3 linked regions of the Homo sapiens genome follow. The protein of the gene in region 2 interacts with the protein of the main gene of each other region in a pairwise test. Each region holds a gene or a part of one and is shown on either strand. Other genes may lie near its edges.

Evidence for each region.
Region 1: the proteins of SMUG1 (region 2) and KRTAP15-1 interact in binary tests that used the Homo sapiens proteins (3 or more experiments, as listed by UniProt).
Region 3: the proteins of SMUG1 (region 2) and SKIL interact in binary tests that used the Homo sapiens proteins (3 or more experiments, as listed by UniProt).

What each region holds. Positions count from the first base shown.
Region 1 is NC_000021.9:30,438,039-30,441,377, forward strand, and holds KRTAP15-1 (keratin-associated protein 15-1), read left to right. Parts: upstream 1-2,236; 5' UTR 2,237-2,289; coding exon 2,290-2,703; 3' UTR 2,704-2,831; downstream 2,832-3,339. UniProt on the Homo sapiens protein: In the hair cortex, hair keratin intermediate filaments are embedded in an interfilamentous matrix, consisting of hair keratin-associated proteins (KRTAP), which are essential for the formation of a rigid and resistant hair shaft through their extensive disulfide bond cross-linking with abundant cysteine residues of hair keratins.
Region 2 is NC_000012.12:54,182,356-54,186,107, forward strand, and holds part of SMUG1 (single-strand selective monofunctional uracil DNA glycosylase), read right to left. Parts: intron 1,605-3,752; 5' UTR 1,586-1,604; coding exon 1,301-1,585; intron 269-1,300; coding exon 1-268.
Region 3 is NC_000003.12:170,381,677-170,385,428, reverse strand, and holds part of SKIL (ski-like protein), read right to left. Parts: intron 897-3,752; coding exon 664-896; intron 1-663. UniProt on the Homo sapiens protein: May have regulatory role in cell division or differentiation in response to extracellular signals.

The sequences.
Region 1 (3,339 bases), on a different chromosome or scaffold from region 2:
GTAATGAGACTGATATCTTGAGGAAGAGGAGAGATTGAGATTTATCTTGCTGTGGTTTCTGTGTTGTTTGATTTGCTCATTTTTAGAAAAAAGTTTCCATTCCACTTCTGAATGAAAGTAGTTGAATGCAAAAAAATCCATACTTTGAGAAAAGAATGTGCGACATTACTTAATATCTGATCCCTCAGAGTATTCTTCTACTGAAATTGCTTATATAGGAATGGATGACATTAAAACAAGAAAGCAACTTCAATTTAGGCGGGCTAAATATTTGTGTGGCTATTTTGATATTCAATATTTTATTGACAAACACAACAGGAAGATTTGGAATCTACTAGAATGCTTTTTGGCTATTAATAATTGAGAAGCCTAATAAATAAGAATTGTTTATTCCAGAAACACAGAACAAACTATGTTACTTAATAAATGAAACATGATTGGAGATCAATTTGTCTCCTCAAAAGTTTAGACTTATAAAGTCTACAATTTGGAAGGAAGTTGAGCAATTATCTCCAGCCTCCTGTCAGATTGGAATTCCACTTACAACATCCTAATTAGATTTTCCCAGGGCCCTCAGTATGGAAATATCATTAATTGCAAGAGCAACTCATTTTAGATTTTTAGCTGAATCTTCCCCTAAAACTTTTACCTAGTAATCCTGATTCTTCATAGAAGGGAGTCTCAGTTCACTTCCATTGTAGAATACATCAGTTCTGAAGATGGATGTCTTAAGAGGTTTGCCCATTCCCACAGGTTAAGGCATTTCCTGCATCCGTGCCATATATCTATTTACAGTTTGCTCTGATGAACTTTCTGAGCGAATCCAGAAAAATCCTCATTACTCTAGTACTCTAGGCAGAATATATATGTCAGCTGATACATCAGAGGTCACAAAGGCATTCACTCTCAATTACACATTATCATCATGTATCCTTCCCACCCCTTTATTTCAATTTATAAAGTCATTTGTTACTATGAATTCTTTACATATTTTATCTTTCTGTGAATACTACATGGGATAGACATTTCCCTCATTTCTTGCTTTTCTTTTCCCTCTCTGGTAAAAATGTCACCCTCTGAGAGAAAAGAAAGGAAAAGATTAACGATTTACATTTTACTTATAGTGCTTATTATTTTCCTCTCAGTAACATCAACATGACCAAAAATTACTTATACCTTATGGGGATAAACGGTTTTTTATAATCAAACTTATTGATGACTTCTATGAAGAAGCAAATCAACCTTTGAGTAAGGGATTTCTTTAGTAGTTTTACAATGTAAACTTCAAAGCACTTGTTCAAAAATTTCACCCTTCATTCTTAACTCTTCATGTGCACAAGAGTGACTTAGCTACTTGTGTTATAAGAAATCTAAACTTAAATATGTTAGGCACTCATTTAGCATGTCTACCAAATAAGGATTGTTATTGGGTTATTTCTTCTAATGGTTCAAAGAATTGAAAGAAGGAATAGATATTGAAATTTTTTTTCTGTTCTCAATTGAATTTATAAAATTGGAGCAAGATCAAAGTCCCTTCCAGATTACAAGGTATTTTTCAGATCTTTACAAATACCAGAACTCTCAGTGTCTTAGCCGTTTGATCCAATTTCTAGAAGGACAGGATGAATGAAGCATCAAGTTTTTTTCTTTGTTTTTTTGTTTCTTTGTTTGTTTGTTTGTTTTGGAGATGGAATCTTGCTCTGTCTCCCAGGCTGGAGTGCAGTGGTACGATCTCGGCTCACTGCAAACTCCGCCTCCCGGGTTCAAGCAATTCTCCTGCCTCAGCCTCCTGAGTAGCTGGGATTACAGCCGCCCACCACCATGCCCGGCTAATTTTTGTATTTTTAGTAGAGACGGAGTTTCACCATGTTGGTCAGGCTGGTCTGGAACTCCTGACCTCGTGATATGCCTGCCTCAGCCTCCCAAAGTGCTGGAATTACAAGTGTGAGCCTCCGCGCCCGACCCTTTGAAGCATCAGTCTTATAGGTACAATTATGGTGGTTTTCATTCTACCTAAGCAAGATGAATGAGAAATGGCATTTTTGTTTCATGAACAATTGCTTTGAAAAACTAATGAAATTCTTTCATGTAGAAGTCTACGTTCATAAATAAAATTCTTTGAGTGTTAATATATTTCATTTTGACTGCAGCCTAATTAAGTGTTCTCATTAGAATGGGCACTTGTGACTACACCTATTGCTAGAGTATGTCAGTGTCCAGTATAGAAGGTAACATTCACACACACACGCTCCTCACTGCAAATCACCTGAGCTCAGAACTCCTGTTAACATGTCTTACAACTGCAGCTCTGGAAACTTCTCCTCCTGCTGTTTTGGAAGTTACCTGAGGTATCCAGTTTCCACTTATAATTTGTTCTACCCCAGCAATGCCATCTATTCTCCAAATACCTGCCAACTGGGCTCCTCTCTCTACAATGGCTGTCAGGAGACCTACTGTGAGCCCACCAGCTGCCAGACATCCTGCACTTTGGCCAGATCCTATCAGACATCCTGTTACTGCCCAAAGAATTCCATCTTCTGCAGTCCCCGCCAGACTAACTACATAAGATCCCTTGGATGTGGAAACACTGGCCTTGGATCTCTTGGTTGTGGAAGCACTGGCTTCCAATCTCTGGACTGTGGGTCCAGCTTCTACCACCCAACTACCTTTTCATCCAGGAATTTCCAGGCAACTTGTTACTAACCAGCCTTTGGGTCTCGCCTTTTTGGATCATCTTACTGAATATTCTCCATTCTCTCATGATTATTTCTGTACTCTATGGAACTGCAACACTCAGCCTGTCCAATATCTGTGATTGTTGACCATCTACATCAGTAGGACTCAGCATCCTAGCCCTCTTGGAAGTATATGATTGAACACGGACAAATTAATCTTGACCTAGGACCCTTCCTAAATCTGACAGGAGATATATCTTGAATTTCAATTTTTGTGCCAATGCTCAGGATCATTTCTGTTATCATCTTTCTAAAATCCTTCTCTCATTATTTTCCCAGAACTCTTCCACTCAAATATATTTCAAATAGTTACAATATTTTAAATAAGCTTATTTCTTTGGCATGAATTCTGGCATTCCATTTTATTTTGTTAATACAATACACTTAGGCTGGGCATGATGGCTCACACCTGTAATCCCAGCACTTTGGGAGACTGAGGCTGGCGGATCACTTTAGGTCAAGAGTTTGAGGCCATCCTGGCCAACACAGTGAAAACCCATTTCTACTAAAAATACAAAAATTAGCAAGGCCTGGTGTGCACCTATAATCCCAGCTACTCAGGAGGCTGAGGCAGGCGAATCACTTGAATCTGAGAGACGGAGGT
Region 2 (3,752 bases):
TGGCAGGCAGCTCAGCAGGAGTAAGGTTGCGCCCGCTGGGAGCCAGGAAAAGCAGAGGGCATAGATTGTGGACAAAACAGTGATGGAAGAAGACCTCAGGCTGTCCACAGAGGTTCCGGAAAAAGCCCCAGAATCGGGCACCACTCACTTCTGACTGTGGGCACTCCAGTCCCAGCACTGGTCGTTTAGGATGCTCTTGGGGAGGGGTCAGCACAGGCCCCACAATGCCCAACCAGTCCCGGACCATGCTTACTTCCCCAAAGGGCACCTGTGAGGAAGGAGAGAGACATGAAAGGCTTCAAACTGGAGACCTGAGGCCCGGGCTCTGGACCAACTGACTTCTTTATACCTTACATGAGGATCCAGCCTGCACCCCCTACCCCTACCTTCACCCAAAGGCCTGAGACAAGGATTCTTGGCCCTATGGTTTGAGCCTGTCTGTCTTTTTCCAGTTCTTCATTGTGAACCGTGGTCCAGAAGAATTTGTTTCCCTCTAGCCCAACTAGCCTTTGGGACTAAGTACAGGGACTACATTGAGATATCTAGCCCTACACAGGGTTTGATGGTTAGTACTGGGGACAGACAGATGGTCTGAGACAGAAAGGCAGCCAGGGTTAAAGGAGGCACAAGGATGGGCTGACCACTGCTGTCTGGATGCCCTCTCAGCCCCAAGCCTCAGGCTGTCATTTCCATCGATCATCATTGATCACCTTTCATCACCCAGTTGGGGTCAATAAAAGCGATTGAGCCTTCTGCCCTGAAGCCTCTTCCCCTCCCCCACCTGCCAAGCACCCCCACTGGGGGCAGTCACTCATCCTGAGCCCTGAAAGAAAAGCGGGCAGGCACTGGAGCCAGGCTCTGTTTTGAACCTCGCCTTAGCTAGGAAACAGAACCCAGGTTCCCAGAACGCCCTGCATCTCTTACATACCCACCCCTGTCAACCAGTCTCTTCTGAGGACCCAGCAGTCCTAGTCCCTCTTCTGACCCCAACCACACTTCAGGGACAGGGGAGATCCAGTAAAGTAAGGATGGGGCTGGCGGAAGGAAGGGCTCTCAGAGGCAATTACTGGCCAGCTCACAGGGAAAACGAAACTACCATTAATGTGCTTGGTTAATTACGGGCAGAGACGCTGGGAGAGGGCCTCGGACCACAGGAGCCAGTATATGTGTTGAGACAGAATGGGGCGGGAGGACCTACACATGTCTACAGCCATGCACATGCTCCTTCTCCACAGCACACCCAGCCAAGCATCCACCTAGAACCCCCCACTCCACCCACTGGGGAAGCCAAACCCTTTACCCCAGTCTGGGCCATGCCAAAAGGTCCAGGGTTCATGCCCAGGAAGAGTACTTCCTTGGGGCCCTGGCAGTAGCGAGTCACGTAGTTGCGATGTGGCTCCCATGCATACTCCACGGGATTGTAGATGATGCCCACAGGCTCCGAAAACTGCAGCTGGCTCAGCTCAGCATTGAGCCGAAGCTCCTCCTCCAGGAAGCTCTCAGCCAAGCTTCCAGGGCAGGGCTGGGGCTCCATGAGGGCACCTGCAGGCTCATGGATGGACCCCAGCAGGAAAGCCTGGGGCATATGTCCATGCCGCTGTCACCTGGGAAAAGAGATGGACAGAAGCCCCATCAACCCTCAGCCACAGAGTAGGAGGGATCCATGCTTGCCAGGGCCCCCACTACCATTTCCTGGGCTCAGAAGGGACCCTAAGAGACCATGTCAGTCATCTACCAACCACCAAGTAGGACTGAACTCATCTCAGTTCTTGGTAATGAAGGGCCCTTTCCCTCCCCACTTCCATTATCTGTCCTCTTCACATGGCACCTGGTGAGGATAAGCCATAGCCACCAAACATCTCCCACTCCAAATCTCCTTTCCATCAGGCATAGGTCACTAGTTCCTGGGCTATGCCGAGCACATAGTAGGTTTTCAATAAACATTTACTGGTGGCATCCTTTCAGCACCTTTAAGGTCATCCTAAAAAAGAAAAGCCCAGCCAGAATGGACTGTTCTGGAAAGCACGGCGCTGAAGAATGAAATGCAAGTGCACAGCCACAGCCCAGAGACCTGGGAAGGCTAATTACAATAGCTTCCAGGTGGTGAGCGACTGCTCTGCACCAGGTACACCTCATTGATCCTCACAACAATCCCATGAGGTGGGTATTACTGCTCCCCTGTTATAAGTGAGGACACTGAGGCTTAGCAAGATTAAGCAACTTGCCCAAGGTCTTACAGTTAGTAAGTAATAAAGCTGGATTTGGTTGAGCCCAATCTCTCTGGCTCAAGGCTATGCTTTAACCACCCACGCCATCTTGCCTTAGATGGTTTGATCAGCCACCCTGCTAATTCTACAACCCCCTAACCCCAGCCTAGCTTCTTTCCCACACTCAGGAATACCGAGTAGGATGATTACAGACTCCTCATAGAATCTTACGAGCTACACAACCATGGCCAGAGCCTCAGGTTTCCACCTTCAAATACAAAGAATAATAATATCCACTTAATAATGTTGACATAAGGAAGGCCAGGCATGGTGGCTCATGCCTGTAATCCCAGCACTTTGGGAGGCCAAGGCGGCTGAATCACCTTAGGTCAGGCGTTCAAAACTGGCCTGGCCAACATGGCGAAACCCCGTCTCTACTAAAAATTACAAAAATTAGCTGGGCATGCTGGGCGTGGTGGCTCAAGCCTGTAATCCCAGCACTTTAGGAGGCTGAGGTGGGCAGATCACCTGAGGTCGGGAGTTCGAGACCAGCCTGACCAAAATGGAGAAACTCCCACCTCTACTAAAAATACAAATTAGTCAGGCATGGTGGTACGTGCCTGTAATCCCGGCTACTCTGGAGGCTGAGGCAGAATCATTTGAACCTGAAAGGTGGAGGTTGCGGTGAGCCAAGATCGTGCCATTGCACTCCAGCACGGGCAACAACAGTGAAACTCTCTCTCAAAAAAAAAAAATTAGCTGGGCGTTGTGGTGGGCACCTGTAATCCCAGCTACTCGGGAGGCTGAGGCAGGGAGAACTGCCTGAACCCGGGAGGCTGAGGTTGCAGTGAGCCAAGATCGTGCCACTGCACTCAAGCCTGGGCAAAAGAGCAAGACTCCATCTCAAAAAAAAATAAAATAAAAAATAAATAAATAAATAAATAAATAAATAAATAAATAAATAAATTTGCCGGGCGCAACAGCTCATGCCTGTAATCCCAGTACTTTGGGAGGCTGAGGCAGGTGGATCACGAGGTCAGGAGTTCAAGATCAACCTGGCCAACATGGTGAAACCCCGTCTCAACTAAAAATACAAAAATTAGCTGGGCATGGTGGCACGTGCCTGTAATTCCAGCTACATGGGAGGCTGAGGCAGGAGAATTGCTTGAACCAGGACCTGGGAGGCAGAGGTTGCAGTGAGCCGAGATTGTGCCACTGCACTCCAGCCTGGGCTACAGAGGGAGACTGTCTCAAAACAAACAAACAGACGTAAGGATGGAATGAGATGTTATGTTTAGGTGAAGGGAGAAAAGAAATGGGAGAGGAAGAAGAAAGGGAAGAGAGAAGGGAGGTGGGAGGAAGGAGAAGGGAGGGGGCAGGAACATGACAGCAAGCTTTGTAAACTGCAAAGGCCATTGCTTCACTCCACTCCCATTCAAACCCAGTGTTCCAACCTGACCATTCTACTCACATTTTCAAAATGCCTTTCCTGCCTCAACTCCCAAAACCTTGCACATACCATTTCTACAGTCCAACCAAATACAC
Region 3 (3,752 bases), on a different chromosome or scaffold from region 2:
GTGTCTCAGTTCATGGCAAATCAGAAAGAAAAATAAAGGTTGGGTGCGGTGGCTCACAACTGTAATCCCAACACTTTGAGAGGCCAAGGCAGGAGGATCACTTGAGCCCAGGAGTTCGAGACCAGCTTGAGCAACATACCAAGACCATCTCTACAAAAAAAAAAAAAAAAATTTTTTTTTTTAATTAGCCAGGCACAGTGGTGTGCGCCTCTGGTCCCAGCTACTAGGGAGGGTGAGGTGGGAGGATCACTTGAGCCCAAAGGTTGAGGCTGCAGTGACCGCAATCTCACCACTGCACTTCAGCCTAGGCGATAAAGACTCTGTCACAAAAAAAGAAAAAAAAAGGAGGAAAGAAAAACAAGGATCTCCTGAAGACTGACAGCAAATAAAAGGTAGGAAAGGAAAAAAATTCGGACAAAAATAACTTGCAGTCTGAGGCCAGGTAGCCTGTATCTATCTCAGTCTCCTGAGCTATCACCACGCTAGAAAAGTATAGCAACTGAGATTAAAATAAATCACCCAGAGTTTTGAAGGGTAGCATTTTTAAAGGTAAAAGCTCCAATTATCTGAAAATTTAGCTCAAACAAAAAGCCTGTTTGAAAATGCTCAATAAATGTGTTCATTAGATATTTAATTTTAGAAAGATAATCTCTGAATACTTACCTAAACGGCTACATAATTCTCTACTTGTTTTTAAATCCATTTTCTCCTGTTCCTCAAGTGAGACATCTGGATAAGACACTGTTTTTTGAAGTTTACCACTACTGTGAGCCTTCTCTGACTGTCTTGATATGGACTTACTTGCCTCTGTCTTTGTGAGCTCTTTAGACTGGGATACAGCAGAAGTAAGTGACACATTTGGGGCAACCACTTTATCACACATGTATAAGTAGTAGCTGAAAACAAGTAAAAGCAAAACAAGACATATATTACATATTACAATTAAGTAAAAATCAAATATGTAACATGCATTTCTGTGGTTAAACTTTTTTTTTTCTAACCAAAACAGACAATATTACAACTCAGAAAATAAAGGTCACAGTAAAGAATTCTTAGGAAAAAAATCAACACTTTAGGCATTACAAACAAAATTATAAGGGATTTTTTGTTAGTTTGCAAGTAACCCAGGCTGGAGCGTAGTGGTATGATCATGGCTCACTGTAACCTCTAACTCCTGGGTTCAAGCAATCTTCCTGCCTCAGCATCCCAGGTAGCTGGGACCACACATACCCATTTTTTTTTAGAGATAGGGTCTTGCTATGCTGCCAAGTTGGTCTTGAACTCCTGGGCTCAAGTGATACCCTCCCACCTCCAACTCCCAAAGCACTAGGATTACAGGCATAAGCAACCATAACCAGCTTGCAAGTAATTTCGTGTTTTTTTTTTTTTTTGGCAAGTAATTTCTAAGCACTAAAAAGATACACAGAAGGAAAATCACAGGCTCTTCTCCTTCCCTCAAAACCACCTGAGAATTAAAAGCATTAAGGACTTTATACAGCTGTGTAACAACTCTGAGCAGGTAAGTTTTACTCCAGAAAAAGAATAATCTATAACTACTTTGGAGGACTTTATCTTGCCCACCACCCTTCCAAAGCAGGGAATCTTTGCTTTGGTGAGGCTGCTTCAGTGGCAGACTGCAAGGCTATGTCCTGACTCACAGGAGGCTCAGTGAGGAGCTCCCAGGGCTCTTCTTATATACCTCAGAGAGAGAGCTCTGAATGTCGCCCAGCTACTGGGCAGTTCTTGTATCAAACCCCACTGAGCAATCTTCTTGAAATACTTCACTACTTCCTACTCATTTGATAAAATGGCAACAATAAATTATGCAAAACTAAGATAAAAGAGATTACCAATTTTGACCAAAACTCACATAAAATTGCCCAGTAGACTCATGTGAGAAGCTCATGGGACAAACAAATTTCAGCTAGATATTTAAGTACCATATTTGTAACTATATTCTGAGTAACACTTAGCAAAAAGATGTAACCATTTAAGACTTGACACTCTATCCCCTGAACTCCAGACAATCTCCTCTTACATTTCATTTTCTTTGTACTAAGACATCTATATTGTTCCCCTTTGTTAATAACATCCATTTTTGAGCCAAAATCTCAGTTTTCTGACAGGACAAGAAAATTGACAGGTTTAATAGGGCTCAAAAGACTTACTGCAAATACAACAGGTAAAGTAGTGATTGTACAAATGTAAATAAGACTCAGTCCCCTTATCACCATACTTGGAGGGAATACAGATTTACACTAGTAGAAAAAAATCTAGGGCTCAACAACAAAAAACTTACAATCTAGGGTGAACATTTATTGAAACAGTAAAACTCTGATTTTGAGAAGTACGGTTATTAAGAAAGCTCTTAGTTTCAAAAGAATTTCTTTTTAAAATATCAAAGTTGCAGGCCGGGTGCAGTGACTCATACCTGTAATCCCAGCACTTTGGGAGGCTGATGGCAGGTGGGTCACTTGAGGTCAGGAGTTCGAGACCAGCCTGGCCAACATGGTGAAACCTCGTCTCTTCTAAAAATACAAAAATTAGCTGGGCGTAGCAGCGGATGCCTGTAATCCCAGCTACTCAGGAGGCTGAGGCAGGAGAAATGCTTGAACCCGGGAGGCGGAGGTTGCAGTGAGCCGAGATCATACCATTGCACTCCAGCCTGGGCAACAGAGCGAGACTCCATCTCAAAAAAAAAAAAAAAAAATTGAAGTTGCGGCTCGGGGCGGTGGCTCACACCTGTAATCCTAGCAGCACTTTGGGAGGCCAAGGCTGGCAGATCACCTGAGGTTCAAAACCAGCCTGGCCAACATGGTGAAACCCCATCTCTACTAAAAATACAAAAAAATTAGCCAGGAGTGACAGCTGGCGCTCAGGCTCAGCTACAGGATGCCATGACAAGAGAACTGCTTGAACCTGGGAGGCAGAGGTTGCAGTGAGCCAAGATCCTGCCACTGCACTCCAGTCTGGGTAACACAGTGAGACTTTGTCTCAAAAAAAAAAAAAAAAAAATCAAAGTTGCACACCAAATTCTTGAAGAGTTTGTTTACCTCTTGAAGAAAAGTAAGAAATTAAAGGAGAACTTCCATTTTTTACTTGAGGGCAAAAAGAAAATGACCTATTTCTAGAAAACACATAGAAACACATAGTAAAGGTTATTTCAAATATTCAGTGCAATTTACAATTCATTTCATTTCAGATTCTTTCTTTGAAATTTTTTCTAATAAGAGTAACAATACAATTCACCTACCATTTCCCTATAATGATAAATAGAAACAAAAAATACATTAAATACCAATGTACTTATTTAAAAATAATTTTGAATTTTCTTTTTTTCTTTTTTTTTGAGACAGTTTTGCTCTGTCGCCTAGGCTGGAGTGCAATGACGCGATCTCGGCTCACTGCAAGCTCTGCCTCCCAGGTTCAAGCAATTCTCCTGCCTCAGCCTCCCGAGTAGCTGGGACTACAGGTGCCCGCCACCAGGCCCGGCTAATTTTTTTGCATTTTTAGTAGAGACAGGGTTTCACTGTGTTAGCCAGGATGGTCTCGATCTCCTGACCTCATGATCCACCCACCTCGGCCTCCCAAAGTGCTGGGATTACAGGCATGAGCCACCGCGCCCAGCCTAATTTTGAATTTTCAAAGATAATCTATGATTAACAAGAAAGCCTGAAAATAAAGAAATAAATTCGTGGTCAGGCACAGTGGCTCACACCTGTAATCCCAGCACTTTGGGAGGCTGAGGCAGG